Linked DNA regions of Homo sapiens. The protein of the gene in region 1 interacts with the protein of each later gene in a pairwise test. Each region holds a gene or a part of one and is shown in the gene's direction. Other genes may lie near its edges. The genes, in order: NAT8, JPH1, GOLT1A and TMEM143.

Region 1 (7,610 bases):
GAAACCTCTGCAGACTTAAATGTCCCTGTCTGACAGCTTTGAAGAGAGTAGTGGTTCTCCCAGCATGGAGTTTGAGATCTGAGAATGGACAGACTGCCTCCTCAAGTGGGTCCCTGACCCCCGAGTACCCTAACTGGGAGGCATCCCCCAGGAGGGGCAGACTGACACCTCGCACGGCTGGGTACCCCTCGGAGACAAAGCTTCCAGAGGAATGATCAGGCAGCAACATTTGCTGTTCAGCAATATTCCCTGTTCTGCAGCCTCCGCTGCTGATACCCAGACAAACAGGGTCTGGAGTGGAGCTCCAGCAAACTCCAACAGACCTGCAGCTGAGGGTCCTGACTGTTAGAAGGAAAACTAACAAACAGAAAGGACCTCCACACCAAAACCCCATCTGTACATCACCATCATCAAAGACCAAATGTAGATAAAACCACAAAGATGGGGAGAAACCAGAGCAGAAAAGCTAAAAATTCTAACAATCAGAGCGCCTCTCCCGCTCCAAAGGAACACACCTCCTTGCCAGCAACGGAACAAAGCTGGACAGAGAATGACTTTGACGAGTTGAGACAAGAAGGCTTCAGACAATCAAACTTTTCGAAGCTAAAGCAGAAAGTTCAAACCCATCGCAAAGAAGCTAAAAAGTTTGAAAAAAGATTAGACGAATGGCTAACTAGAATAACCAGGGTAGAGAAGTCCTTAAATGACCTGATGGAGCTGAAAACCATGGCATGAGAACTATGTGATAAATGCACAAGCCTCAGTAGCCAATTCGATCAACTGGAAGAAAGGGTATCAGTGATTGAAGATCAAATGAATGAAATGAAGCGAGAAGAGAAGTTTAGAGAAAAAAGAGTAAAAAGAAACAAACAAAGCCTCCAAGAAATATGAGACTATGTGAAAAGACCAAATCTACATCTAATTTGTGTACCTGAAAGTGATGAGGAGAATGGAACCAAGTTGGAAAATACTCTGCAGGATATTATCCAGGAGAACTTCCCCAACCTAGCAAGGCAGGCCAACATTCAAATTCAGGAAATACAGAGAACGCCACAAAGATACTCCTCGAGAAGAGCAACTCCAAGACACATAATTGTCAGATTCACCAAAGTTGAAATGAAGGACAAAATGTTAAGGGCAGCCAGAGAGAAAGGTCGGGTTACCCACAAAGGGAAGCCCATCAGACTAACAGCTGATCTCTTGGCAGAAACTCCAATCCAGAAGAGAGTGGGGGCCAGTATTCAACATTCTTAAAGAAAAGAATTTTCAACCCAGAATTTCATATCCAGCCAAACTAAGCTTCGTAAGTGAAGGAGAAATAAAATTCTTTACAGACAAGCAAATGCTGAGAGATTTTGTCACCACCATGCCTGCCCTACAAGAGCTCCTGAAGGAAGCACTAAACCTGGAAGGGAACAACCGGTACCAGCCACTGCAAAAACATGCCAAATTGTAAAGACCGTCGATGCTAGGAAGAAACTTCATCAACTAATGAGCAAAATAACCAGCTAACATCATAATGACAGGATCAAATTCACACATAACAATATTAACCTTAAATGTAAATGGGCTGAATGCTCCAATTAAAAGACACAGACTGGCAAATTGGATAAAGAGTCAAGACCCATCAGTGTGACCATCAGGAGACCCATTACACGTGCAGAGACACACACAGGCTCAAAACAAAGGGATGGAGGAAGATCTACCAAGCAAATGGAAAACAAAAAAAGGCAGGGGTTGCAATCCTAGTCTCTGATAAAACAGACTTTAAACCAACAAAGATCAAAAGAGACAAAGAAGGCCATTACATAAAGGTAAAGGGATCAATTCAACAAGAAGAGCTCACTATCCTAAATACATATGCACCCAATACAGGAGCACCCAGATTCATAAAGCAAGTCCTTAGAGACCTACAAAGAGACTTAAACTCCCACCACAATAATAATGGGAGACTTTAACACCCCACTGTCAACTTTAGACAGATCAACGAGACAGAAAGTTAACAAGGCTATCCAGGAATTGAACTCAGCTCTGCACCAAGCAGACCTAATAGACATCTACAGAAGTCTCCACCCCAAATCAACAGAATATACATTCTTCTCAGCACCACATCGCACTTATTCCAAAATTGACCACATAGGTGGAAGTAAAGCACTCCTCAGCAAATGTAAAAGAACAGAAATTACAACAAACTGTCTCTCAGACCACATTGCAGTCAAACTAGAACTCAGGATTAAGAAACTCACTCAAAACCACTCAGCTACATGGAAACTGAACCTGCTCCTGAATGACTACTGGGTACATAATGAAATGAAGGCAGAAATAAAGATGTTCTTTGAAACCAATGAGAACAAAGACCAGAATCTCTGGGACACATTTAAAGCAGTGTGTAGAGGGAAATTTATAGCACTAAATGCCCACAAAAGAAACTCCATCATCCCAGCCCAAAAATCTCGTTAAGCTGACAAGCAAATTCAGCAAAGTCTCAGGATACAAAATCAATGTGCAAAAATCACAAGTACACCAATAAAAGACAGAGAGCCAAATCATGAGTGAACTCCCATTCACAATTGCTTCAAAGAGAATAAAATACCTAGGAATCCAACTCACAAGGGATGTGAAGGACGTCTTCAAGGAGAACTAAGTCCTAACTGTCAAGTTCACCTTCCTAACAAAGTTATTCCGGATGTGATGTCTCCACCATCGTCCTGGTCCCAGAGCCCCATCAGGTGTGTCCTCCTGGGCAGCAGCCTCGCTTCTGACATCTGGTGCCTTCATGCCAAGTCCAGGCACAGCACATAACAAGCCTTCGGCCACTGTTTGTTGAATGAATAAATGAATCTTTCAGGTCCGACAAGGAAAGCCCAGGCTTTTATCAGGAAAGCTACAAAAATGCAGAAGTCACAGTAAATCCTGGGAGCAAGAGACGCCTGAATGTCAAGTGAGGTCGCTGTGTTTTGAGGAAGCCACAGCCACGGGTGAGCATGGAGGGAGAGACAGCACACAGGGACGGAGCACAAACCTCTCCCCCTCCACGTGACCGGCAGGTTTCTGACTGAATATTGGTTAGACTCACACTAGAAGTACTCAGTGGTGCTTTGGAGCCACCGCTCACCTCTTTTGATTCCTAGGCCAACTCCTGCTTGACACTGAAATGTTGCGAGAACACTCTAAAGATGAGCCATGGACTTCCTGCCCAGACTTGATGCTCCTTAGACTTTTCCTCGGAGGTGGTGTTGGGTACCAAAGATCTGGAATCTCAGCAGCCTCCACTGGCTGGCCCTGGGTTCCTGCTGCTGACTCCCAGCTTCTGGTTTCTGCTGAAGAAGGCTGCAGGGCAGCACCTTTAGGGGAAGCCTTGACTTTTCCAGATCTGGGCTCTCTCCAGTGTTTTCCTGAATGCCCCTACCAGAAGCCTGGCTGTCGTCTCTGAGCCCTTCCTCATCCTCCTCCCTGTGTGAATCATTCCAACTCCTGCCATTTCTGCCCCAAATGCACCTCCATACGGCTCATGTCTCACCTTCTTGACTTCCTCCCTCTGGTGAAGCCACTGCTGTCTCATGGGCCTCTGCTAACCCAGGCGGCTTCTTTGTGAACCCAGAGCTAGGCACAGCCTCAAGCCATGCAGCCCACTGGATGCAGAGTTTAGCAGGCAAGCAACGCCTTTGAGCAAATAAGAAAAGGTTGCCTTTTCCTTTGGCCAGTCTCAGTTTCGTGCCATGGCTCATGGCTTGGCAACCAGAGGGAGGCCCAGTTTTAGCTCCCACCAGAGCCTCTGGGCCAGCTGCTCTTGTACAGTGAGCACCTGCATCCCTGTACTGGAGGCCCCGCTCTTGCCTGGATGTGGCATGAGCCTTGAGGGGTAGCTGCTTCCATTCCTACCTCCTCAGATCCATTGTCCACCTGCAGCCAGAGTGATGCTTGCGTGCGCACACACACACACACACACACCTCCTCCCCTCCGTGCATATCAATGTCCTCCCCTTGCTCTTGGAATAGAGTCCAAACTACCTAACCTAGATGACGGGCCCAGCGTGGCTGATCATCAATAGGTTAGCTAATCTTTGGAAGGGAAGTTTCCCTTCAATAGCATGTAAGTTGGTGTGGAAAAGGGCTTTTTCTGTTAGGTTTTGCTTTTGCCTATCTTGTATATGTTGCATCCTTGTAATTGGGCCCCTTGAGATTTCAGCACCACACCATGTTTTAGTGACTGAAATAATGAACATTCTGATCAGACCGTTGCTGGCTTGCACATGTTAACCACTTGCTTTTGGTCCAATATTCCTTGTTCCCACAACATAATGATAAACTGCTCATGTACTGTTTCTTTGTTCAGCAGGAAGACATTCCTTCAGGGTCAGGAAAAGTTTGCAGAATGAATGAATGCCTTGAAGGACACTGTGACCAGCTGCTGACACTGAGAAGCCTGGTTGCACAAGGTGTTATCTCAGACTGAGGAAACACAGACTTTTCCTCTCAATCCCCCTGAACTCCCCCTTCCTCACTCTCTAGCTGCATAAAAACATTCTGCTGCTGCTTCTTTGTTGAACTGAAGTTGAGAGATCTTGCTCTCCTGCCTTCTTGCTTTGGCCAAATCGAATACAACTTTCTCTATCTCCAAGCACCCATGTGTCAGTGTTTGGGATCAGCTCCACGTCGGGTACAAGAGCATGAATTTGGGCCTCCCCAACATCTGCAGTGCAAAATATTTAACAACGGGTGTGGCACAGCCTCTGACCAACAGCCAGAACACACACAAGCCACACACAGCCATGCCTGTCAAGCCGAATGTCAACCTTGCTCATGGCTGAAATGACCCCAGGACACAGGAAGTGCATGACACACAACTGTTGACTGAATCAATGAATGGGTGGAGATGGGGGTTGGTGAGGTGAGTGCAAGGAACTGCCAACAACAGATGCTTCGTGGACCAGGGAAACCTCAGCGAGGAGAAGCCTAGCTGGGAAGGGCCTTGTTGCCAAGCATGGGGACTCGGCTTCTGGCCAATGGTGACTGATTGCAGGGTGAATGGTACAGTTCTCAGGCTCGTCGTATATGTGTACAAGGACCAGGGTGGATCGTATATGTGGACAGGGACCGAGAGTACTAAGTGTGCCAGGTGGCAGAGAGATGCACGGGGCCTGAACAGGCAAGAGAGGTGGCAGGCCTTCCAGAAGGGCAAGGAACCCAGGCGGTTCCAGACCCTGAGTCTCCCCCTCCAGGTCGTTCCCTTTGACCACAAAGAGGAATGCACACTGGGCTCCCTGCTGTGTTACAGCCCAGCTCTTTGACCCTAGGGTTGATGATTACCAAACATTCAGGAGCCAAGCAATAAGGCAGGCAGTCTACTTTCCAGGGGTGAGCAAGCCCCAGACGGTATCTCCTGGATGCCAGTGAGCGGCTGAGAGCTGAAGCTCCCTGGACACTCAAGGCTCTTGTGGTGACAGGTGAGGGGACTGGGTGGAAGGACAGTGCTCTGAGCATGCACCTTCCTTGGGATCTGGAGGCTGGGCTGTTTTTTATGCTTGGCTCTTATGCCACTTCAGCAACCTAAAAACTTACAATAAAGCTGGAGGGAGCCTTTCCTGAAACTTGTGTTGGACAGAGAATTTTTGCGATGTATGGTCCCTGGAGAAGGACAAAAGGGTTGCACGTGTGGCCTGCCTGAGGTAGGTGCCCCCTCAATGCACGGAGAAGCTGAGAGAGCCAGAAAAAGGAAACAGAAAAAGGAAGAGCGGTGGGTAGTTCATCTACCAGGGCTTTATAGAAGGCATCTTATTCAATCTTCAAAACAACTCTAGAAGGCAGGTTTTCTTCTCCCCTGTTCTATAGTTGAAGAAATGGAGGCTCAGAGAGGTTAAGTGACATGCCTAAGGTCACACAGCTAGAAAGGGATGGAACCAGATTCCAATGCAGGTCTTTCTGACCCTACCTTCTCCCAGTGGCAGAGGCCTGCTTCCTCATGGGCAAACGCGGAAAGACACACCCTTGAGCAGGTCTCCCTGTTCCTGCAAGGCTGGGAGCCATGCAGGCACTCACATGATTTTCTCTCTCTTCCCCAGTCTGACGTAAAGGCGTGCAGGGAGGCCTAGCTCTGTCTCCTGGACTTAGAGATTTCAGACACAGAAGTCTGTCCATGGCTCCTTGTCACATCCGCAAATACCAGGAGAGCGACCGCCAGTGGGTTGTGGGCTTGCTCTCCCGGGGGATGGCCGAGCATGCCCCAGCCACCTTCCGGCAATTGCTGAAGCTGCCTCGAACCCTCATACTCTTACTTGGGGGGCCCCTCGCCCTACTCCTGGTCTCTGGATCCTGGCTTCTAGCCCTCGTGTTCAGCATCAGCCTCTTCCCTGCCCTGTGGTTCCTTGCCAAAAAACCCTGGACGGAGTATGTGGACATGACATTGTGCACAGACATGTCTGACATTACCAAATCCTACCTGAGTGAGCGTGGCTCCTGCTTCTGGGTGGCTGAGTCTGAAGAGAAGGTGGTGGGCATGGTAGGAGCTCTGCCTGTTGATGATCCCACCTTGAGGGAGAAGCGGTTGCAGCTGTTTCATCTCTTTGTGGACAGTGAGCACCGTCGTCAGGGGATAGCAAAAGCCCTGGTCAGGACTGTCCTCCAGTTTGCCCGGGACCAGGGCTACAGTGAAGTTATCCTGGACACCGGCACCATCCAGCTCTCTGCTATGGCCCTCTACCAGAGCATGGGCTTCAAGAAGACGGGCCAGTCCTTCTTCTGTGTGTGGGCCAGGCTAGTGGCTCTTCATACAGTTCATTTCATCTACCACCTCCCTTCTTCTAAGGTAGGGAGTCTGTGATCTCTTTCTGTGTGTATTGGTCAGAATAGAATCCATTCAGCTGTAGCAGCAAGCAATCCCCAACCTTTCACTGCAATGACCTTTCAATGCAATAAAAGCTTATTGTCCATTCACATCTGAGTCCCATGTGATTGCTTGTGGGGTAGCTTCTGGGTTTCTGCTTCATTCAGTCTTTTTGATTCCCATCTGTTTCATTTTTCTAGTGCCAGCATAATGTTGCATAAGAACAACCACCAAATGAAACAAATATTTATTTAGTTCATGAGTCTGAAGTCAGCAATTTTGCCTGAGCTTGGCTGGGCAGTTCCTCTGGTGTCAGACTGCATTGTACAAATGCAGTGGGATTGGCTGAAAGACTAGGTCAATGGTGCTGTTTCGTTTTCCCACAGGCTACCTCAGGCATGGTTTCAAGGAAATTGCAGAGGAGCAAAAACAAAAGCAGAAACAAACAAATGTGTTTTCAAACCCCTGCATGTGTTGCATCTTCCCCAAACTCAAGGAGAGGAACCTGTCTCTGCAGTGAGAAGGGCTGCAAAGTCACATAGCAAAAGGGTGGAATGCAGCCTCGGGAGAAGAATTGGGGCCAGAGACACAACCAATCCACTCTAACTCCAGGGTCTCTGCAGAGGGAAGAAGGTGGCCTCAGAGGGGAGTGTGGGATTTACCATGGGCTAGACCTGGAAGTAGTATAACTCTTCCAGGGGATCATAACAGAATACCTGAGACTGGGTAATTTATAAGGAAAAGAGGTGTATTTGGTTCATGGTTTTGCAGGCTGTACAAAAAGCAC
Region 2 (7,618 bases), on another chromosome or scaffold:
TCTGATTCCGAGTTTTTTTGTGGTGACATTAAACTGGAGGAGGAAGGAAGCAGTAATTCCATGTGAGACGTATCACTTATTTTATTAGTGATTTGTGTATTACATGTTGCTGAAATAGAAACCCCCTGAATATTAACAATAAGTTAGTATCATACTCATGAAATCCAAGTCTAGGTGCCCAGAATTTTTTGTGCTAATTCTGATCTGTACTTTGTTTTTTCACTTGTCATAAAACTATTGAAAATATCTGGGAAAACACAACGTTTTGTTAACTAGATGCATACTTGCACATACCCATTCGGAGCATATAAACTGAAGTTTGGCATAGTGCAGTGCAAATTTGACTGAAACTCCTAAACTGGATGCCTTCCACTACAAGATTGTGTAGTTAAAATGACTAAATCTAAAAAATTAGCTCCCAAATGAACACAGTTTAAAACTGGTAAAAGTAATTTTTATACTTGTGAAATATGCATCTACATTTTAGGAATCAAGAGGAACTAATTAGAACTTTATTTGAGCAGCAGGGAGAAGTTGGAACCCACCTGCTTCATAAAGAAATAGGCCCTTTCTTATTCTAGGTTCATTGACTAAACTAAACCTATTTTAAATTTCAGATGAACTGCTAACAGTTTGACTGCAAATTGGTTTCTAGCAATTCTGTGGAGGAATTCTTTCATATACTGTGATTTAACAAAATAGGAGAGGAATGTGGCCAATGCTCTTGTCCCCCCCTTCCCTATTTGACAGTTAAGCAGAGACTTAAACTTTCTAATTATTGCTGTTGCCTTAAACAGCTTGGATTTTCAAGCCATACTTTTTTGGAAATTCTAAATACTGTACTAGTCTTATTTTTGGAGATAACAGTTTAAAGAAACTAGCTGTTAATTTTCCATCAGTGTTAAACATTTACCAAGATGGTATGGCTGTGTTTTAAAAGTGCAGATACTTATTGATATCAAACAGCATCTCTGCAAATTGTTCTAGCAAAATTAACTTGTCACTATAGACAAAAGTTAGGAGGATGTGATTATAGCATTCTTTTAACCAACAAAATATTAAAAATAAGGTGGTTTATTTTAGTATCTTCAAGCCAGATTGTGAAACTTTCATCCTAGAATTTAAATTTTACCTGTATAGGCAAAGGAAAAGTCAAAGTCAAAATTTCCTAATAATTCCATTCCCATTCCTGTTAAGATGGCGGTATTTGGAGATGGCCAGTATTCAATAGGAAGCTTCTTAGCCTGAAATGTTTTACATGACTATCTTATCCTCTTGAGTTAATCTTTCAGAGAAAACTGTGGGCCACCCACCTCCTCAGAAGTTCATAGATGTCAAGTTAAGACTTCACATCTACCCAGAATATGACATTTACAGTACCAGACCCACTTAGTATTTCATTGTATATCTACTATTGCCTGTGTCACATATGCCAGAATGAACAAAAAGAGAAGGTAGTCTTGAAATTGGTCAAAACCGTTGACTTGGGAGTCATTATGGTTTTAACTTTTAAGTGCAATGAAATAACCAGCCATTGTTAACACAGTTATATAAAACCACTAGCATTTTTGCCCGGTGTTTTGAAAATGAATATGTGCCATGCAATGGAAATCTGTGCATGGAAATATAAAATGCAAAGTGACTGCAGGGTAGATCTATATAATCAGAAATGGAAAGAGGTCAAGACAGACTAATCATTATTTGTTTTCTATGACATTGTGAATTGTTATGAATAACACAGAAGTAATTACATTTTAAATTTTCCAGATAGCTTCTTTTGAGGGATACTGTAAATTAAAATTTACCCTTAATTAAAGGAAATTGATTTTGAAAAGAAACTTCTAAATTCCCTAATTTAACATTCATTTCCTCCTAAGATTATTTTAAAACCTGTACCAGGTTATTTTTTAATGTCTTTGCTTATTTATTTAGTAGCAAAAAATTCACTACAAATGCTCTAGATGACAGACTATCATGAAAAAGCATAATATTTGTTGACAGAGTCATCTGGTATCAACATTTTAATAGATAGTGTCAAATATACCTTTCCTCTGAGATGAAGTCCAAAATGGTAACAGTAGAAGATTTCATCTGGCCTTACATCAGTTTCTCCAAGAGTAAAGGGTATACTTTTTAGCCACCATAGCTTTTTACCGTCAACATAGTCATCAAACACCCTCCATCCACAAACACAGACCAGAGGACACATGAGAATTTTGTGTTCTCATACGAAGTAATTCCTGCCCTCAGGGTGCTTCTAGTCTGTGGTGTGATTCACAATGCAGTGGCAGCTAGGGAAATCCATAGAGGATGCAGAGATTTGGCAAATGATACGGCACAAAGCTTTGGCCTTTTCACTTAGAAGCACAAAAATGTTAAATTACTCATTTTTTTCATAATTCACTGTATTCATAATATATATTGTGGTTGTCGATTCTCTCTTAGCTCAAAAAGGTTCACCCAAATTCAAATGATAATCCTGAATATTCAACAGTTTTGTCTACACTAAAAAAAGAGATGCTGAATGTAGCAGAAAATTTAAGACGTTCATTTGATGACTGTGTCCCAAGTATTCCGATTTAAGCCTGTATACTTCTTGGAATGTTATACTGACATAGACCTAAAAGTCATTTTTTACAGTTTTCCAGCTAAATTAGTAATATTAGAATAAAATTTACACATAGAATTCATTTCATCTTCTACTGTTTCCTTGTCTTCTTCCCAAGAGGAATTTTTGATGCATTAATTTCAGAGGAGAATGTTGTTTCCCAGTGTTCACTTTTTGTATTAGAAAGTAGTGGTTTTCCTCTGAAATACTTGCATAAAATTTTAATGAAAAGCAAAAATTATCTGACTACTAGAAAATTCTGTGCAATGACATTAAAGCCTTACACCCAAAATTACAGGGCGGGGATTCACAAGTGGATGCAAAGTATCCCCCAGGGTTGACTTGGAAATGGGTCAGATTTGACCTTGGGCAGGCCTGCGCCAGTGTGCGCTGGATGGTGCAGGTGACGGTGCAGCTCTGCCCCCGACTCACGGTGCTTTCTTGCGGTCTCTCCAAGGTACCTACCAGGGCCAGTGGGCCGGAGGCATGCGGCATGGCTACGGCGTGCGCCAGAGCGTGCCCTACGGCATGGCCACGGTGATCCGCTCACCGCTGCGTACCTCGCTGGCCTCGCTGCGCAGCGAGCAGAGCAATGGCAGCGTGCTCCACGACGCCGCAGCCGCCGCCGACAGCCCGGCCGGCACCCGCGGCGGTTTCGTGCTCAACTTCCACGCAGACGCTGAGCTAGCGGGCAAGAAGAAGGGCGGCCTCTTCCGGAGGGGCTCCCTTCTTGGAAGCATGAAACTTCGCAAGTCCGAATCCAAGTCTTCCATCTCGAGCAAGCGCAGCTCTGTCCGCAGCGACGCGGCCATGAGCAGAATTAGTTCCAGCGATGCCAACTCCACGATCAGCTTTGGCGATGTAGATTGTGATTTTTGCCCGGTGGAAGACCACGTGGACGCCACCACCACGGAAACCTACATGGGCGAGTGGAAGAACGACAAGCGCAACGGCTTCGGCGTTAGCGAGCGCTCCAATGGCATGAAGTATGAAGGGGAGTGGGCAAATAACAAGAGGCATGGATATGGCTGTACCGTGTTTCCTGACGGCTCCAAAGAAGAGGGAAAATACAAAAATAATATTCTGGTCCGTGGGATAAGGAAGCAGCTTATACCAATAAGACATACAAAAACTAGGGAGAAGGTGGACAGAGCAATTGAAGGCGCCCAAAGGGCAGCTGCCATGGCCAGAACCAAAGTGGAAATAGCAAATTCAAGGTAAGTAAATGCAGGGTGGTTGGTTTTGCTGGGTTGGTCAGAACAATGGAGTATCAAATATTATGTTTGTCTATCTGCCAGTGACATCGCTAAATGCTTTCTACAACTACTAAAAAATCAAAGGTGAAAAATGATTACACTCAGTAGAATCAAAGTCAGAAATGTACCTGCACTGTTCTGAAACTTCCCATCATCAAAAAATGTCGAAGGCACTTTGAGCTCCCCTTCCTGTTCTAAATTACTTCCCTCATATTTAACAGCGTGAGGGAGTTCACTGAGACCCTGTGCTCATCTTCCTGAGCCCGGAAAGTTGCTGTTTTCTTTTCTTTTTTTTGTAAGAAGGACCTCTGAAATGCTGCCATAGCAAGCATTGTGTTTTGTGTACCAAAAGAAAATAGCAATCCACGTAGAAACATACTTAGTATAGATGTGTACCTTTATTCTGATATTTACATCGGAGGTATGTACACTTAGCCTAGCTTATACAATTCAGATTCTGTTTATGAAGTCTTATAGGTAAAATTGGTTTTGAGACAGCCACCAAAATCTACATATGGCAAAAGTGGAAAATAACATGACAAAATCTGGCATGCATTGTTAAAAACAACAGCTACATGGGAAAGGCAAAGAGACCTACAAGAATCGCCACATTCTATGCAGAAGAGATTAGGTCACTGGTGTATTAAAAGGAAAGGGGTGGAGGGAACCTGACAACCTGACATGGACAGATGGGACTCTCAATGTGCCAAGGTTGGAAGAAAGAAGAGCAGTAGAGAAGGGCTGGAGTGAGTAGGAGAAAACCGGTGAATAATAGATTGACAAGTGGGGTGTATGTGTGGGCACAGAAGGACTACGTGCTTGAAGTTTTACCATTAATAGCTGGTTTCAGGGATCCAGCAAGAGGGATGGAAAAATCTATTGGGAATAAAGTTCTATTAGGGAAGGATATCATAGGTGAGACAAAAAGAAAAAGGTGTGGTAATAAATGGAAAATTTTATTTTTAGTCTTATTTAAGTGAGTACTGACTAGCCACAGCTTTGTAAGACTTGAAGCATAAATGTAGCATAGAATATTAAAAATCCTGTTTCTGCTTCAATAACACTCTTCCACAGAAGTAAACGCCCTTTTGAAACCACAAAATGTTAGCATGTCTTCAGGTTTTTGTTATTGGCATTGAATTAATGAACCTCCCTTTTTTTTGATGGAGCCATATGAAATTTCCAATGTTCAAATTTTTTAATGTACAAAAAAAAATGGTGACATCATATGGTTCAACTTAGTACTTCTAGAGTTCTTTTTTTTTTAATTCCTCTACTTAAAAAATAAGTAGGGCTACCACTAAATAAGGTTGCATATTTTGCATTACTTTTAGATATATATTATATTATATATTAAAAGTCTTCAAGGTTTTCATCTTTATCCCAAACTAATTTCATTTCAAAGCTATTATTTTTTGTTGATCAGCACAAACTTTAATGAAGGGTCTCTCTCTCTCCTGTCTTCTCTACCAGGCATCTTTTACTTCAGATCACAGTTTTGGATCTACTTTGCTTTTCAGTTTGCTTATAGATCAGATACTCAGCACATCTAATCTTGCTGGCTTACTTTTAGACCTAGTGATAAACATTTGTTAGGCCTTGACCTCTAATTTTAAATGCACACTTGGATTCTTCCATGTTTTCTTGTTACAACTTAGTGACATGCTAAAGTCAGCTCAGTCTTGGGAGGTGAAAAATGAACCTGTGCAGAACACTTTAACAAACGACTTATCATTAGTTTCCATTGGAGGAGTTTGTATAACAGAAAGCGACTGGCAATGCAGAGATGATCTCTGATTATGCTAGTATCATAAAACCCTCACCCAAGTCCTAGCCATGTTCTCTCTGTTGCAAGTCTTTTGGGGGTAGTATTATTTCATTTGGGAATACTGTATTATATAGTTATAATCAAGAGATCTTTAGTTTAAGACCTTATACTTTTAGCCAGTTAGTTACTTCATAGTTACTTAGCTATGTTTAAAATGCTTAATTCATTATGCAAATGAAAGAAGTCAGTCACAGAAAAACAAATACTGCATGATCTCACTTAATCAAATACTGCAATGACCTGACTTGATCTAAAATGGTCAAACTCATAGAAACATAGAGTAAAATGGTGGTCGCCAGGGACTGTAGGGTGGGGAAAATGGAGGGTTGCTGTTCAACAGATACGAAGTTTCAGTTACTCAAGATGAATACATTCTATAGATCTGCACTACAACACTGTGCCTATAGTTAACAATACTGCATTTTGCATTTAAGAATTTGTCAAGGTCAGGTGCTATGGTACATGCCTGTAATACTAGCACTTTGGTATGCTGAGGCAGAAGGATCTCTTGAGCCCAGGAGTTCAAGACCAATCTCTGCAACATAGTGAGACCCCCGTCTCTGCAAAAAATAAGAAAATTAGCCGGACACGGTGGCGCACACCTGTCCTAGTTACTTGGGAGACTGAGGTGAGAGGATGGCTTGAGCCCCAGAGGTCGAGACTGTAGTGAGCTGTGATTGTGCCACTGCACTCCAGCTTGAGTGTCACAGCAAGACCCTGTCTCAAAAAAAACAAAAAAAGAATTTGTTAAGAAGGTAGGTCTCATGTTAAGTGTTCTTACAACAATAAATAAAATACTGTTCGGATGACACAATCAACAAATTAAAAATAAATATATTCAATTAACCTTCTATATTTTACTTACCTTCACTGTTTTAGTCCTTTTCCCAGATTCCTTGCTATTATATAATGAATACTTCCGATTACAGCTTTGTAACTTGTTTTTGGAGGAAGCAGTTAAAGGAATGACATTCCCCTTATAATAGCTCTGATTTTAGAGTTCTACAGTCTTTTAAAACCCTTAAAAATTATTCACAATAGCAAAGACTTGGAACCAACCCAAATGCCCAACAATGATAGACTGGATTAAGAAAATGTGGCACATATACACCATGGAATACTATGCAGCCATAAAAAATGATGAGTTCATGTCCTTTGTAGGGACATGGATGAAATTGGAACTCATCATTCTCAGTAAACTTTCCCAAGGACAAAAAACCAAACACCACATGTTCTCACTAATAGATGGGAATTGAACAATGAGAACACATGGACACAGGAAAGGGAACATCACACTCTGGGGACTGTTGTGGGGTGGGGGGAGGGGAGGGATAGCATTGGGAGATATACCTAATGCTGGATGATGGGTTGATGGGTGCAGCACACCAGCATGGCACATGTATATGTATGTAACTAACCTGCACATTGTGTACATATACCCTAAAACTTAAAGTATAATAATAATAAAATAAAAAATTTTAAAAAGCCTTAAAAATAAGAAAAGATTCTTTTAAGATTTGCTGCCTGGGAGATAGGACTTTTAGCTACATTATTGTCATTAACCATGGCTCTTTCTAATGCCAGAATATCTACACAATATCTGTACAGAACATCTATCTGACCCCTCTATGGTTGCTGTTATCAATGTTTTTGTTTGTAAAACTACTGAAAATTTAAGAACATAAGATGACACTCTTCCCACCTAGCCCAGTGCAGACAGAAGAAAAACTAGAAACTAAGTCTCTTGGTAGCTGCTGCTGTTGAAGTCACTAGTTCATCATTAGCAACAAAAGGAGATGATCAATGAATAGTTATCAACTATTCAGTTTGTCCACCCAGGTAGTGTAAATCACTATTCTCAGCAACATAGTGAGACCCTGTCTCTACAAAAAATGAGAAAATTAGCCGGGTGTGGTGGCATACGCC
Region 3 (7,618 bases), on another chromosome or scaffold:
CAGTGTGGTTGGAGCATGGCAGGCAATAGGGACAGTGGCAGGAGATGAGGTGGGCAGGCAGGCCTGGGCCCCACCAGGCAGGGCCTGTGAGCTGTGGTGTGGATGAGAAGGCTCTGCTGCAGTCTAATCTCAGTGGGCAGCCGTGAAGGAGTCTAGGCAGTATGCTAACATGATCAGGTTGTATGTTTTGCAAGACCTTTGAGCGCCGTGTGGAGAAGGACTGGGAGGGTGCAGGAATAAAGCAGGAGGCCAAATGGGGGCTGCTGCATACGTCCAGGAAAGAGATGATCGTGGCCGGGAATTAGGTGTTAAGAATGGAGAGAAATGGACAGCTTTCAACATGTATCTTGGAAGAAGAAAAGAAAACTTAGCTGTGGATTTCATGGGGGAGGGGTGGGCTTCTGCGTTAAGTGGTGGGGTGGGCGGTGGTGACATGTTTACTCATTTGAGGACAACCAAGGGAGGCACAAGTTGAAGGAGGGAAGATAAATAGACCAGTTTGGGATTGAAGATTAGCCCAGTTCAAGATGGCTGAGAGAAAACCAGGCAGATATGCCAAGTAAGCAGCTAGATATGAGTTTCAAAGCCCAAAGAGAGGCATGGACTAGAAAGAGAGACATCAGTGTCATCAGCATACAAGGGAGGTTTGAAGACGTGAGAGGCTGGGTGTGGTGGCTCATGCCTGTAATCTCAGCACTTTGGGAGGATCGCTTGAGGCCAGGAGTTCAAGACCAGCCTGAGCACATTGCAAAACCCCTGTCTCAACAACAAAAAAATTTAAACCAATTTTAAAAAATTAGCTGGGCATGGTGGCCAAGTGCCTGTAGTCCCAGCTACTCAGGAGACTGAGGTAGAAGGATCCCTTGAGCCCAGGAGTTCAAGGCTGCAGTGAGCTATGATTGTGCCATTGCACTCCAGCCTAGGCAACAGAGCGAGATCCCAGCTTTAAGACAAAATTAAAAACAAAAATAAACACATGGGAATACATGTGGAAATAGAATGAGAAGAGAAGTGAGCTTGGGCACAAGCCCTGTGCAATTCAAATCCCAAGAAGAAGAGAGAGAAGTAGGAGCTGGCAGAGGAGACAGAGAAAGGGCAGTTAGAGCAGTAGGAAGAAAATCAAGAACGTGTTGTGCACAAACCAAGAGAAAGGCTGTTTCAACACGGCAGTGGTCAGTTCTAACAGATGATGGTTCACACCTGCCCATTGGATCTGGTAACATGAAGGTCATTAATGGCCAAGGCAAGAGCATTGCCTGCAGAAGTGGACTGGACTGGGTTGGTTAAAGGCACTTTTTATTTTTTGTTTTGTTTTGTTTTTGGTTTTTGAGATGGAGTTTCACTCTTGTTGCCCAGGCTAGAGTGCAATGGCATGATCTTGGCTCACTGCAACCTCTGCCTCCCGGGTTCAAGCGATTCTCCTGCCTCAGCCTCCCAAGTAGCTGGGATTACAAGTGCCCGCCACCTCACCGGCTAATTTTTTGTATTTTTAGTAGAGACGGGGTTTCATCATGTTGGCCAGGCTGGTCTCGAACTCCTGACCTCAGGTGATGATCCACCCACCTCGGCGTCCCAAAGTGTTGGGATTATAGGTGTAAACCACCGTGCCTGCCCAAAAGGCACTGTTTGGAGCTCAAGACTAAGTTCAAATCCTGCTTCTGCCAGCTGCTGTGTATCCCCAGGCAAGTGACTTAACCTCTGTGTTTCAGTTTTGTTTGTGAAATGGTGCTAATAGTAGTACCTATGTCACAGGTAGTTATGAAAATTAAATGTGTTAATATACTTAAAGCATATATGTGCTTAGACTGTGCCTGGCCCAGTATGTTCATTACACTATCAATCACTATTGCTAATTTTAAAAAGTGAATGAGGCTCTTTCTCTCCTTATTTCCCTCCTTCCTCTTCCTGAACAATTCAGTCTTAAAGCCATTAGGTTTAACACAGAGAAGGCGGTGCCCAGAGTGGGGTGTTAGAACCCCAGCAGGGTGAGAAGGGTGTTCACACTAGGGGTGGCCTGGTACAAAGTATCATAGGCAAAGCATCCCCTGCAGGGTCAGGGATGGGGTGGTGAGGGGCCTGGCAGATACTGCCTTAAGAATAAAGAAACATTATCAGCTATGGGGCAAATTGACATCTTGCACCACCTACCAGGATGCAGTGAGAAAAATACAGCATCACATCTTGTGCTATTTCTGCCTAAGATGCATAACCTGAAGCTAGTCGTGAGGAAACATCCGACAAACCCAAATGGAGGGATGGCTACAGAATAAGTGGCCTGAATCTTCAAAAGTGTCAAGGTCATGCCAAGGAAAGACCAAGGAGCTGTTCCAGACAGAAGAGTTTAAAGAGACATGATCATTAAATACCACACAGAATGATGAACTGGATTATTTTGCTATAAATGATGCTACTGGAGTAACTGATGAAACTTAAATGGAGTCTGAGGGTTGGAGGATAGTCACATATCAATGTTAGTGTCCCAATTTTGATGGCTGTATGTTGGCTGTTTAGGAGAATTTTTTGTTTGCTTGTTTATTTCAATAGGTTTTTGGGGAACAGGTGGTTGGTTACATGAATAAGTTCTTTAGTGTGATTTCTGAGATTTTGGTGCACCCATCACCCGAGCAGTGTACATTGTACCCAATGTGTAGTCTTGTATCCTTCAGCCCCTCCTACCCTTTCCCATGAGTCCCCAAAGTCTATTGTATCATTCTTATGCCTTTGCATCCTCATTGCTTAGCTCCCACTTGTGAGTGAAAACATATGATGTTTGCTTTTCCATTCCGGAGTCACTTCACTTAGAATAATGATCTCCAATTCCATCCAGGTTGCTGCGAATGCCATTATTTCATTCCTTTTTGTGACTGAGTAGTAGTTCATTTTTTATATATATATATATATATATATATACACACACACACACACAAGTATACATATATACACACATATGTATACATATACACATATGTATACATATATACATATATGTATACATATGTGTGTATATGTGTATAGATACACACATATATACATACATGTGTGTATATATGTATACATATATATGTATATGTGTGTGTATATATATACACATCACAATTTATTTATACACTCATTGACTAATGGGCATTTGGGCTGGTTTCATATTTTTGCAATTCCAAACTGTGCTGCTAGAAACAGGCATGTGCAAGTATCTTTTCCGTATAATGATTTATTTTCCTCCGGGGAGATACCCAGTAGTGGGATTGCTGGATGAAATGGTAGTTCTACTTTTAGTTCTTTAAGGAATCTCCACACTGTTTTCCATAGTGGCTATTCTAGTTTACATTCCCACCAGCAGTGTAGAAGTGTTCCCTGTTCACCACATCCACGCCAACATTTATTTTTGTTTGTTTGTTTTTTGATTATGGCCATTCTTGCAGGAGTAAGGTGGTATCACATTGTGGTTTTGATTTGCACTTCCCTGATCATTAGTGATGTTGGGCATTTTTTCATGTTTGTTGGCTGTTTGTATATCTTCTTTTGAGAATTGTCTATTCATGTCCTTAGTGTCCAGGAGTTTTAAAAACCACACCAGAGCATTCAGGGGTGATGAGGTATGAGGTGGCAACTACTTTCAAATGGTTCAAGAAAAATATTCTTTGTACTGTACTTGCAAGTTTCCTGTACATGTGTGATTGCTTTAAGAAAAGGAAAAGGGGGAAAAAAGACGATGATGTTCTGAGACTCACTGCGTGCCTGAGGCCAGAAGGACTCATCTGCCTGCTCCATGAGATATTGTTTTCTTGGAGCTGTAGCTGATTTCTGGAGCAAGAAAGACATTGAACCTGGCTTTTCTTAAAGTGAGCCACAAAATGGGGAGTCAGGGAAGCCTGGCTTGTCCGTATCGGGTGGCCATGGGCTCTTCTTGGCAGCAACTCGGGAGTTGCAGAGCAAGGAGCTAAACAAGGGCACCAGTGCAGCCATCAGTGTACCTTGCCAGGGAGATCTAAAGCTGGTCTCTGAGGTCTGGGGAGGTCTCCACTTCTAGGTGGCGCCTGGAGAGCCGGGCCTCCCTGAAGTTACCTTGGCCTCCCAGCTTTTTTCGGCTGGGTGTAGGCGTGACAGCCCTGGCCGCCTCCAGCAGAGGGCGCGCTGCCCAATCTGTCTGGATCACGGGGACCGTGCCGGGCAGGCACACCTGTCACTCCTGGGGGCATCTGTATGACATCCCCACCCCTCCACTCTTTCTGCCATGGTTGCTGCCTGAAAAGAACTTTAGGAGTAACCTCTGGCTGGATAACTTGACTAAAATAGCTAAGCTACTCCAGAAGCAAGAGGCAAAGGCGGGTCTGAAGCTTGTGTGTGAGAAACAGAGTTTCTGACCCTTTTCTGTGGGGTTTCGTGTCCCACTGAGCACTGAGAGCACTAAGTGTGGCCCATAAAGAAGGCTGCCCCCATCACAGGAGAGTCCTGGAATTGCATCTGCCCTTAAAGAAGAGTGTAGAACAGGTGGAGGAGGGATAACTATGGCAGCCAGCAAATCACTGCTGCAGAAGAAGAAGGAATAAACAGGAGAATGGACATCATGTGTGAATGTGAGAAACTTACGCTGTTTCCACAAAATGAGTATGAGGCTGTTCTTAAGTGTGTGCAGGATGAACATATAGAAAGTTCAACAAAACGAAATGAAAACCCCGTAAAATGTGCACATCGTGTTTCCACACAAATACACCTACTGAGGGGGAGGAAAGGGTGTATAGTCAGAGCTGAAATCAATGACAGATGTTTTTATGGCAGGCATAAGCCAACAACAGATATTTTATAACAAGCATAAAAACCTAAAACACTTTTATCATTTGGGTTAAAGAAAGATGACTGTGGTCTTCCTCCACAATATTCTGACCTACACGAAATTATCTTGGTAATTCAGGTAGATGTAACTCTAGATTCTCAATGTGTTGTCTCTGAGGATGGAAATGTTGACAAAACACAACCTTCATCATGACCCATGGGGGTGATATTCTGCTGAGCTGTCCCAGCTTCTAAGAGATTTAATTCAGGCCAGCAGGAGGAGGTAGAAGTAGGAAACAAGCCCAAATAGATCACGAGGCTTGTCAGGAACACAAGGAATCAGCTTTTAGTAGAAAATGGATTCTGGGCAGCTGGGTGATATGTTGAGAGAAATTATGTTACACTGGGTCCCAACAAAATCCAGCTTCTGCCAAAAGTGAGATCCAGTAAGACTGGCATGATACCAGACTATGAGTTGAGCAAGGTTTCAGTCTATAATTTGAATGCTAGATCTTATCACTGTATTTTTCTGTTTTCTTTTTTTTTGAGATGGAGTTTTGCTCTTGTTACCCAGGCTGGAGTGCAGTGGCATAATCTCGGCTCACTGCAACCTCCACCTCCCGGGTTCAAGCAATTCTCCTGCCTCAGCCTCCCACGTAGCTGGGACTAGAGACGCATGCCACCATGTCCAGCTAATTTTTGTATTTTTAGTAGAGACGGGGTTTCACCATGTTGGCCAGGCTGGCCTTGAACTCCTGACTTCAAGTGATCCACCCACATCAGCCTCCCAAAGTGCTGGGATTACAGGTGTGAGCCATTGAGCACCTGGCTTCATTGCTGTATTTTTGATGATTCTTTTAAAGAAGCTCTTTGACCTTTTTTCTGTATTGGAATTGATCCTAATCCTCTTAAAATCTGCATAGCAACAGATGATGGATTAACTACCCAGAAGATGATTATGTTGTTTCATTTTCTTTCAGTTGTAAATAAAACTCAGCCAGTAAATCTAGTCTTGATAATTTTGTTTTTGTTTTTACAATTCTGCCTCTAAACACCAGAATAATTTTTCCCCTCACTTTTAACAACTATCTGCAAAAGCATAATAATAATACCAATTTCATAGAGGTTATGAGAACTGATTCTAACAAGTCCAGTAAAATTTTTGACGAGGGCATCAAGACCATGAAATGGGGAAAGAACAGTCTTTCCAACAGATAGTGCTGGGAAAACTGGATATCCACATGCAAAAGATGCAGGTGGATCCTTACCTTATACTATCTGCAAAAAGTAACTCAAAGCAGATCAAAGCCCTAAAAATAAGAGCTAAAACTATAAAACTCTTAGAATAAAAAATAGGGGAAAGCATTACAGCACTGGATTTGATAATGATTTCTAGGTTATGACATGAAAAGCACAGACAACAAAAGAAAAAAAAGACATCAATCAGACTACATCAAAATTTAAAACTTCACCGCATCAAAGGACACAGTCAACAGACTGAAAGGTAACCTACAGAGTGGGAGGAAATATTTGCAAATCATACGCTACATAGTTAATATCCAAAATATATAAAGAACTCCTACAACTCAACAACAAAAAGAACAACCTGTTTAAAAAATAGGCAAAGGACTTAACTAGACAATTCTCCAAAGAAGATATACACATAGCTAACAAGCACATGAAAAGATCATTAATCATTAATCATTAGGGAAATGTAAGTCAAAACCACAATGTATACTACCTTATACCCATTAGCATGGCTGCTATCAAAACAAAACAAAACAGATAAAGTATTGGCAAGATGTGGAGAAATTAGAACTCTTGTGTACTGTTGCTGGGAATGTTAAATGGTGCAGTCACAATGGAAAACAAAATGGCAATTCCTCAAAGAATTAAAAATAGAATTACCATGTGATCCAGTATAATTCCGTTAATTCCACTTTGTGGGGTATATACCTGAAAGGATCGGAAGCAGTGTCTTGAAGAGATATTTTCTTATGCTCATATTTATGGTAACACTATTTACAATAGGTAAGAGATGGATGGAAGCCACCCAGATGTCCATCAACAGATGAATGGATCAACAAAATGCAGGGTACAGATAGCAATGGACTATTATTCTGTTTTAAAAAGGAAGAAAATTCAGACACATGCTACAACATGAAGGAACCTTGAGAACGTTATGATAAGTGAAATAAGACAGTCACAAAAAGACAAATATTGTATGATTCCACTTATAGGAGGTTCCCAGAGTAGTCAAAAATTCATAGAGAAAGTAAAATGGTGGTTGTTGGAGGCTGGTGGGAGGGGAATGGGGAGCTACTGTTTAATGGGTGTAGAGTTTCAGCTTTGCAAGACGAAGAATTCAGGAGATGCGCTTAATACCACTGAACTGTACATTTTTAAATGGTTAGATGGTAAGTCTCATTTTATGTGCACGTTGCCACAATTTAAAACTTAAAAAGGTAACAATTTAAAAACAAAGCAACAGAATGAATTTTTATTTATTGACTATCATAGTGGCAAAGATAAGTAAAATGAACAATTCTGAGTGCTGGAGAGGGTTAAGGAAAAAAGGAACTATATATCCGGTTATTGTACAAATCGTCTTGAGGGGAGCGATCTGAAATATGTTTATCAAAATGTCAAAAATGTAGCCCTTGACCAAACGAGGGGGCCTTCATGTCCTGCACTTCTAGGCTACGCTTGCTGGCTCTGAGTGAACTCCTGCAGCTTCAAAGAATGCCCTGAGACACTTACAAACCTTGGGAATGGGGGCTTACTGTCAAACCTTGGGAATGGGGGCTCACTGTCAAACCTTGGGAATGGGGGCTCATTGTCAGTGTGG
Region 4 (7,618 bases), on another chromosome or scaffold:
AGGCTGAGGTGGGAGGATTGCTGGAGCACAGGAGTTCAGACCAGCCTGGGCAATATAGTGAGACTCCACCTTTACAAAAAATTGAAAAAAATTCGCCAGGCATGGTGGTGGGCACCTGTAGTCTTAGCTACTCAGGAGGCTGAGGTGGGAGGATCGCTTCATCCCAGGAGGTTGAAGATGCAGTGAGCTGAGATTGCACAACTGAGCTCCAGCCTGGGTGACAGAACGAGACTCTGTCTCAACATAATAATAATAATAATTCCATCTACTTCTGGAGGATGATATTACACTGTCAAACCGTTCCTGGAATTGTGTGTGTGTGTATTGGCTAGGAAATGTCAAAGCAAAAACTTGAACCTCCAGCTTTTTAAGCCCAGTATAGTTTTTCACTATATTTGGCTGCCTCAGTTTCAGTAAAATTGGTCAGCCCCCACCCAACCAAAACAAAACTTTTTTTTTTTTTTTTTTTGAGACAGAGTCTTGATGTTGTCTAGTCTGGAGGGCAGTGGCACGATCTCGACTCACTGCAGCCTCCGCCTCCCTGGTTCAAGCAATTCTCCAGCTTCAGCCTCCTGAGTAGCTGGGACTACAGGTGCATGCCATCACGCCCGGCTAATTTTTGTATTTTTAGTAGAGACAGGATTTCACCATGTTGGCCACGCTGGTCTTGAACTCCTGACTTCAAGTGATCCACTGCCTCGGCCTCCCAAAGTGCTGGGATTACAGGTGCGAGACACTGCGCCCAGCCCCAGAACAAAACTTCAAAGTCCAGAGCTCTGATTGTGTAGTTAGGCAGCCAGGGAAAGAATTCTTTCCCTCGGGGAAGGGGAAAAGGCCTACAGAGAAGTTTTGCTTCCTGAGGTAACAGGAATTCCACTCGAGTCCGGCAGAGAAGGCGGCTTTGGAGGCGTTCTCGGCCCACGTGGACTTCTGCACCCTGTTCCACTACCACCAAATCCTGGCCCGGCTGCAGGTGAGGACGGGGCCCTTCCAGCCCTGTGGTGCTTGTTCGAGCATCCGCTCATTTAGCAAACATTCCCTGACACCTTCTTGGAGCCTGGCCCTTATTTTAAGTGCTGGGGATTCAATAGTGAACATGACAGGTGAAGTGACGCCCTCATGGAGCCAACATTCCAAGTGGGGAGACAAGGAATCAAATAAATATAAAATATGATGCCTGGTGGTGATAAGTGCCATGAACAATGAGGCGGAGTAGTGAGATAAAGAGGGATGAGATGGGTCGGGCGCGGTGGCTCACGCCTGTAATCCCAGCACTTTGGGAGGCTGAGGCGGGTGGATCACAAGGTCAGGAGATCGAGACCATCCTGGCTAACACGGTGAAACCTCGTCTCTACTAAAAATACAAAAAAATTAGCTGGGCGTGGTGGGGGGCGACTGTAGTTCCAGCTACTCGGGAGGCTGAGGCAGGAGAATGGCATGAACCCGGGAGGCGGAGCTTGCAGTGAGCCAAGATTGCGCCACTGCACTCCAGCCTGGGCGACTGAGGAAACTCTGTCTCAAAAAAAAAAAAAAAACAAAGAGGGGTGAGATGGGGCCTGTTTCAGACGGGGTGGGTGGGGAAGGGCTCCCCAAGGAGGTGACATGTGGGCTAAAGGCTTAGTGAAGAGGGGGAACGAGCCTGATGAATGCCTGGGGGAGGATGTTCTTGGCAGATGGAAGAGCAAGTGCAAAGGCCCTGAGGTGAGTGGAGGCCTGGAGTATTGAACAGTGAGGAGGCCACTGTGGCTGCAGGAGAGTGAATGTGCGGGGAGGGTGGGATATGAGGGCAGAGGGGATGGGGACAGATCGTACTGGGCCTTGTGGGCCACTGTGAGGACCTTGCTTTGTTTTTTTGTTTGTTTGTTTTTGTTTCTCAGATGGAGTTTTTGTTCTGTTGCCCAGGCTGGAGTGCAGTGGTGCGATCTCAGCTCACAGCAAACCTCCGCCTCCCCAGTTCAAGCGATTCTCCTCCCTCAGCCTCCTGAGTAGCTGGGACCACAGGCGTCCACGACCTCCCCCTGCTAATTTTTGTACTTTTTGTAGAGACTGGGTTTCACCATGTTGGCCAGGGTGGTCTTGAATTCCTGACCTCAAGTGATCCACCCGCCTTGGCCTCCCAAAGTGTTGGGATTACAGGCGTGAGCCACTGTGCCAGGCCGAGGACCTTGCTTTGACTCTGAGTGAGCCGGGAGCCATGGGAGGGCTCTGAGCTGAGGAGAGATGTGAGCAGCGGATTTAGGTGTTAACAGGATTTCTCTGGCTGCAGTGTAGGGAACAGACTATCAGAGGCAGGGACATCTATGAAAGAGTCTATTATATTTGTCTAGGGGAGAGATAATGGAAGCTCCGACAAGGGTAATAGCGATGGAAATGGTGAAAAACGGTCAGATGCTGGTTATGTTGGAAGGCATCAGCGTTTTGCTGATGTGCTGGCTGTGGGGGTGTTCTGGGGAGGAAGAGAGAGGAGTAGGGGTGCGTCTCCAGCAGTTCTGGCCTGAGCCTCCTGGAGGATGGAGCTGCCATTTACTGGGATGGGGGAGACCGTGGTGGGATGGGGAGAAAGATCTGCAGGGAGGACTGAGAGCTCAGTTTTGGACTTAAGAATTTGAGCTACCATTTATTTATGAATTTATTTATTCTAATATATTTTTTTTTTTTTCTGAGACAGAGTCTCACTCTGCTGCCCAGGCTAGAGTGCAATGGTGCGATCTTGGCTCACTGCAACCTCTGTCTTCCGGGTTGAAGTGATTCTTGTGCCTCAGTCCCCCGAATAGCCAGGATTACAGGCGTGTGTCAGTACGCCTGGCTAATTTTTGTATTTTTAGTAGAGATGGGGTTTCACCATGTTGCTCAGGCTGGTCTTAAACTCCCGACCTCGTGATCTACCTGCCTTGGCCTCCCAAAGTGTTGGGATTACAGACGTGAGCCACCGTGCCTGGCCCATTCTTTTTTAATTAAAACATTTTTTATTTCAGTAGTTTTTGGGGTACATGTGCTTTTTGGTTACATGGATGAATTCTGTAGTGGTGCATTCTGAGATTTTGGTGTGCCCATCACTAGAGCAGTGTACACTATACCCAATATGTAGTCCCTCACCCCCATCCCAACCCCCCTCCCTGAGTCCCCAAATTCCATTATATCACTCTGTGTATCTTCGCACCCTCATAGCTTACTTAGCTTCCACTTATAAAGTGAGAATACGGCTATTTGGTTTTCCATTCCTGAGTTACTTGACTTAGAATAATGGCCTTCCAACTCCATCCAATTACTGCAAGAGACATTATTTTGTTCCTTTTTATGGCTGAGTAGTATTCCATGGTGTATATAGACCATATTTTCTTTATCCATTGAGCTGCCTTTTAGAAAGGCAGGTAGAAAGATGGACTTGAGGCCGGGCGTGGTGGCTCATGCCTGTAATCCCAGCACTTTGGGAGGACAAGGCAGGCGGAGCATGAGGTCAGGAGATCGAGACCATCCTGTCTAACACGGTGAAACCCTGTCTCTACTAAAAATACAAAAAAAAATTAGCCGGGCGTGGTGGCGGGCGCCTGTAGTCCCAGCTACTCGGGAGGCTGAGGCAGGAGAATGACGTGAACCCGGGAGGCGGAGCTTGCAGTGAGCCAAGATTGCGCCACCGCACTCCAGCTGGGCGATAGAGTGAGACTCCGTCTCAGAAAAAAAAAAAAAAAAAAAAAGAAAGATAGACTTGAATATGTGGATCTGGAGGTGAAGGGAGAGGTCTGGGCTGAGAAACTGCTGTGGGAGGATCTATTAATAGATGGTAGTACTGCCGGGCGCGGTGACTCACGCCTGTAATCCTAGCACTTTGGGTGGCCAAAGCAGGTGGATCAGCTGAAGTCAGGAGTTCGAGACCAGCCTTGCCAGCATGACGAAACCCTGTCTCTACTGCAAATACAGAAATTACCAGCCTGACCAACATGATGAATCCCCGTCTCTACTAAAAATACAAAAATTAGCCAGGTGTGGTGGCATGTGCCTGTCATCCCAGCTACTCAGGAGGCTGAGGCAGGAGAATCGCTTGAACCCAGGTGGCGGAGCTTGCAGTGAACCGAGATCGCGCCACTGCACTCCAGCCTGGGTGACAGAGTGAGACTCCATCTCAAAAAAAAAAAAAAAAAAAAAAAAAAAAAGGCCAGGTGCTGTGGCTCACGCCTGTAATCCCAGCACTTTGGGAGGCCGAGGCGGGCGGATCACCTGAGGTCAGGAGTTCGAGACCAGCCTCAACATGGAGAAACCCCGTCTCTACTAAAAATACAAAATTAGCTGGGTGTGATGGTGCATGCCTGTAATCCCAGCTACTCGGGAGGCTGAGGCAGGAGAATTGCTTGAACCTGGGAGGAGGAGGTTGCAGTGAGCCAAGATCGCACCATTGCACTGCAGCCTGGGCAATAAGAGTGAAACTCCATCTCAAAAAAAAAAAAAAAAAATTACCTGGGCCTGGTAGCGCATGTCTATAATCCCAGCTACTTGGGAGGCTGAGGCAGGAGATCGCTTGAACCCAGGAGGCGGAGGTTGCAGTGAGCTGAGATTTTGCCACTGCACTATCCAGCCTGGGTGACAGAGCAAAATTCTGTCTCAAAAAAAAAAAAAAAAAGGAGGGCCGGGCGTGGTGACTCACGCCTGTAATCCCAGCACTTTGGGAGGCCAAGGCTGGCAGATCACGAGGTCAGGAGATCGAGACCATCCCGGCCAACATGGTGAAACCCTGTCTCTACTAAAAGTACAAAAATTAGCTGGGCATAGTGGCGCTGTAATCCCAGTAGCTGTAATCCCAGCTACTCAGGAGGCTGAGGAAGGAGAATCACTTGAACCCAGGAGGCGGAGGTTGCAGTGAGCTGAGATTGTGCCACTGCACTCCAGCCTGGGCAGCAGAGTGAGACTCCATCCCAAAAAAAAAAAAGAAAAAAAAAGGAAAAAGGCACATGGGGCAGAATCCAAGACAGACCAGGCGTGAGCGTCCAGCTGTCCTCTCCCGGTGGAGTCATGGACGGCACTTAATTCTCCCAGCAAGATGTGTGACAACACGCAAGCAGTACTGCCAACCAGGGATGCTCCTGTAAGCCTGGGTGGCCAGGGTTTTTACTGGGGGTCAGTCACATATGCATGGTGGCTGACCTGAGACTCCAGCCCCTCCGAGGTCAAACTGATGCTCAGTGGCTCCAGGCCCTGACCATAGATGACAACATTAACACACAGCATCCAGTGTGGCCCCAGGCCCCAGGTAAACCAAGACACTCTTATCAGTCAGGACATTCCAAGGGCTTAGAGGTTCCCTCCCAGAAGCTGGTCCAGGGCCGGTCCTTTCTTTGGAATGTGCGGGGTTTGGACAACCCAGGCCTGCTGCATTCACCCCTCGCCACATCCCACCACTGCCTTCTGCAGCTCCGCACTTTGCTTTGAATAATAACAACCCCAGCAACAGTGGCCATCACAGCCCCTTGTTGCTGAGCGCTTGCTGTGTCTGGCTTATTGACTCCTTCCTGCAGTGCGGAGAGACAGCCGCCATCAGCCCATTCATACATGGAGAAACTGAATGTCTCAGAGGGCCCGGGTTGTGCCCAGGATCACACAGTTCATAATTGGTGGAGTCGAGATCAAGCCCCCGTCTGCCTGCCTCCAAGCTCTTCCACAGGGCACCTATGGCCTCTGGAGCCACGGTTGTTTTTTTCTTTTTCTATTTTTTTAAAAGTTAAGGCTGGGCTTGGTATGTCTTGTCTGTGATCTGAGCACTTTGGGAGGCCGAGGTAGGCGGATCACTTGAGCCCAGGAGTTCGAGACCAGTCTGGCAAACGGTGAAACTGTCTGTACTAAATATATAAATATCAGTCGGTTGTGGTGGGGGGTGCCCGTAGTCCCAGCTACTCAGGAAGCTGAGGCATGAGAATCACTTGAACCATGAGAATCACTTGAACCCGGGAGGTGGAGGTTGCAGTGAGCCAAGATCACGCCACTGCACTCCAGCCTGGGTGACAGAGCAAGATTCTTAAAAAAAAAAAGTTAAAAAAAGCCTATTTTATTATAGAAATGTATAAATATATAGAAATGTAGAAAGAACATAAGTGAATAAGCATATATCTCCCAGGCAGGAGATTTTAAACAGAGGCAGGGGCAGGGTAGAAGTGGCAGAGGCGGGTGAGGCCCGCTGGGTGACCATTTGCTGATGACTTAAGTCCTTTGAAGATGTGGCCTGGGCAGGGAAAGAAGCAGCATAGCCTCGGTTCAAACAATAGCTTGGTTGTTCACTAGTGGTGCGGGTGACCTTGGCGGGTGACCTCTCTCTGATCTTTTTTCGCTGATTCATTCATTCATTGAGTTCGCTCAGTAAATATTTATTGAGCACCTACTGTGTCTCTGGAATGGCTTGAGGCTCTGGGAGACAGTGGACAGCATGAGAGATGTACCTCACAGGCTCTGTTCTACTGAGGAAGAGACCAGCAACAAGGTACAGAAGTGAAATTTGGCCGGGCACAGTGACTCACGCTTGTTATTCCAGCACTTTGAGAGGCCGAGGTGGGCGGATCACTTAAGGTCAGGAGTTCGAGACCAGCTTGGCCAACATGGTGAAACCCCATCTTTACTGAAAATACAAAAATTAGCTGGGTGTGGTGGCGGGTGCCTATAGTCCCAGCTACTCGGGAGGCTGAGGTAGGAGAATCACTTGCACCCAGGAGGCGGAGGCTGCAGTGAGCTGAGATCGCACCACTGCACTCCAGCCTGGGTGACAGAGCAAGACTATGTCTCAAAAAAAAAAAAAAAAAAGAAAAAGTCTGGGCGCGGTGGCTCACGCCTATAATCCCAGCACTTTGGGAGGCCGAGGCAGGTGGATCACATGAGGTCAGGATTTCGAGACCAATCTGGCCAACATGGTGAAACCCCGACTCTACTAAAAATACAAAAATTAGCTGGGTGTGGTGGCACATGCCTGTGATCCCAGCTACTCCGGAGGCTGAGGCAGGATAATTACTTGAACCCGGGAGGCGGAGGCTGCAGTGAGCCAAGATCGCACCACTGCACTCCAGTCTGGGCAACAGAGTGAGACTATGTCTCAAAAAAAAAAGAAGTGAAATGTATTAAAAGATGTTTCCTTGTGGAGGCCCTGAGAGGGAAGCATCTATGGTGTCTCTCCTGGCTTCCTGTAGCTGCCAGCAACCCTTGGTGCTCCTTGGCTTGTAGATGAGTCACTCCAACCCCTGTCTCCATCTTCCTGTGGCTGCCTTCTCGGTGTCCTATGTGTGTCCTTTTCTGTCTCTTATAAGGACACTCTCATTGGATTTAGGTTCCACCCTAATTTAGTATGATCTCATCTGTATCTTTACCTTAATTCTACCTGCAAAGACCCTATTTCCGAATGAGATCATATTCTGAGGTTCCAAAGGGATGTAAATTTTTAGGGGACAACATTCAACTCATTATACCCAGTAAATTTGAATTTCAGATAAACTATGTGTAATTTTTTAGTACAGTGGAAGTGTGTCCTATGCAATACAGTCATCCAATATTGCATGGGATGTAGTTAAACTAAAAAAATCGTTTGTTGTTGGGCCGGGCATGGTGGCTCACACCTGTAATCCCAGCACTTTAGGAGGCCAAGGCGGGT

What was found.
Region 2: the proteins of NAT8 (region 1) and JPH1 interact in binary tests that used the Homo sapiens proteins (3 or more experiments, as listed by UniProt).
Region 3: the proteins of NAT8 (region 1) and GOLT1A interact in binary tests that used the Homo sapiens proteins (3 or more experiments, as listed by UniProt).
Region 4: the proteins of NAT8 (region 1) and TMEM143 interact in binary tests that used the Homo sapiens proteins (3 or more experiments, as listed by UniProt).

Annotation. Positions count from the first base shown.
Region 1 is NC_000002.12:73,640,155-73,647,764, reverse strand, and holds NAT8 (N-acetyltransferase 8), read left to right. Parts: upstream 1-5,342; 5' UTR 5,343-5,447; intron 5,448-6,062; 5' UTR 6,063-6,136; coding exon 6,137-6,820; 3' UTR 6,821-7,042; downstream 7,043-7,610. UniProt on the Homo sapiens protein: Endoplasmic reticulum (ER)-membrane-bound lysine N-acetyltransferase catalyzing the N6-acetylation of lysine residues in the lumen of the ER in various proteins, including PROM1 and BACE1, using acetyl-CoA as acetyl donor.
Region 2 is NC_000008.11:74,311,068-74,318,685, reverse strand, and holds part of JPH1 (junctophilin-1), read left to right. Parts: intron 1-3,065; coding exon 3,066-3,825; intron 3,826-7,618. UniProt on the Homo sapiens protein: Junctophilins contribute to the formation of junctional membrane complexes (JMCs) which link the plasma membrane with the endoplasmic or sarcoplasmic reticulum in excitable cells.
Region 3 is NC_000001.11:204,203,769-204,211,386, reverse strand, and holds part of GOLT1A (vesicle transport protein GOT1A), read left to right. Parts: intron 1-7,618. UniProt on the Homo sapiens protein: May be involved in fusion of ER-derived transport vesicles with the Golgi complex.
Region 4 is NC_000019.10:48,353,427-48,361,044, reverse strand, and holds part of TMEM143 (transmembrane protein 143), read left to right. Parts: intron 1-868; coding exon 869-973; intron 974-7,618.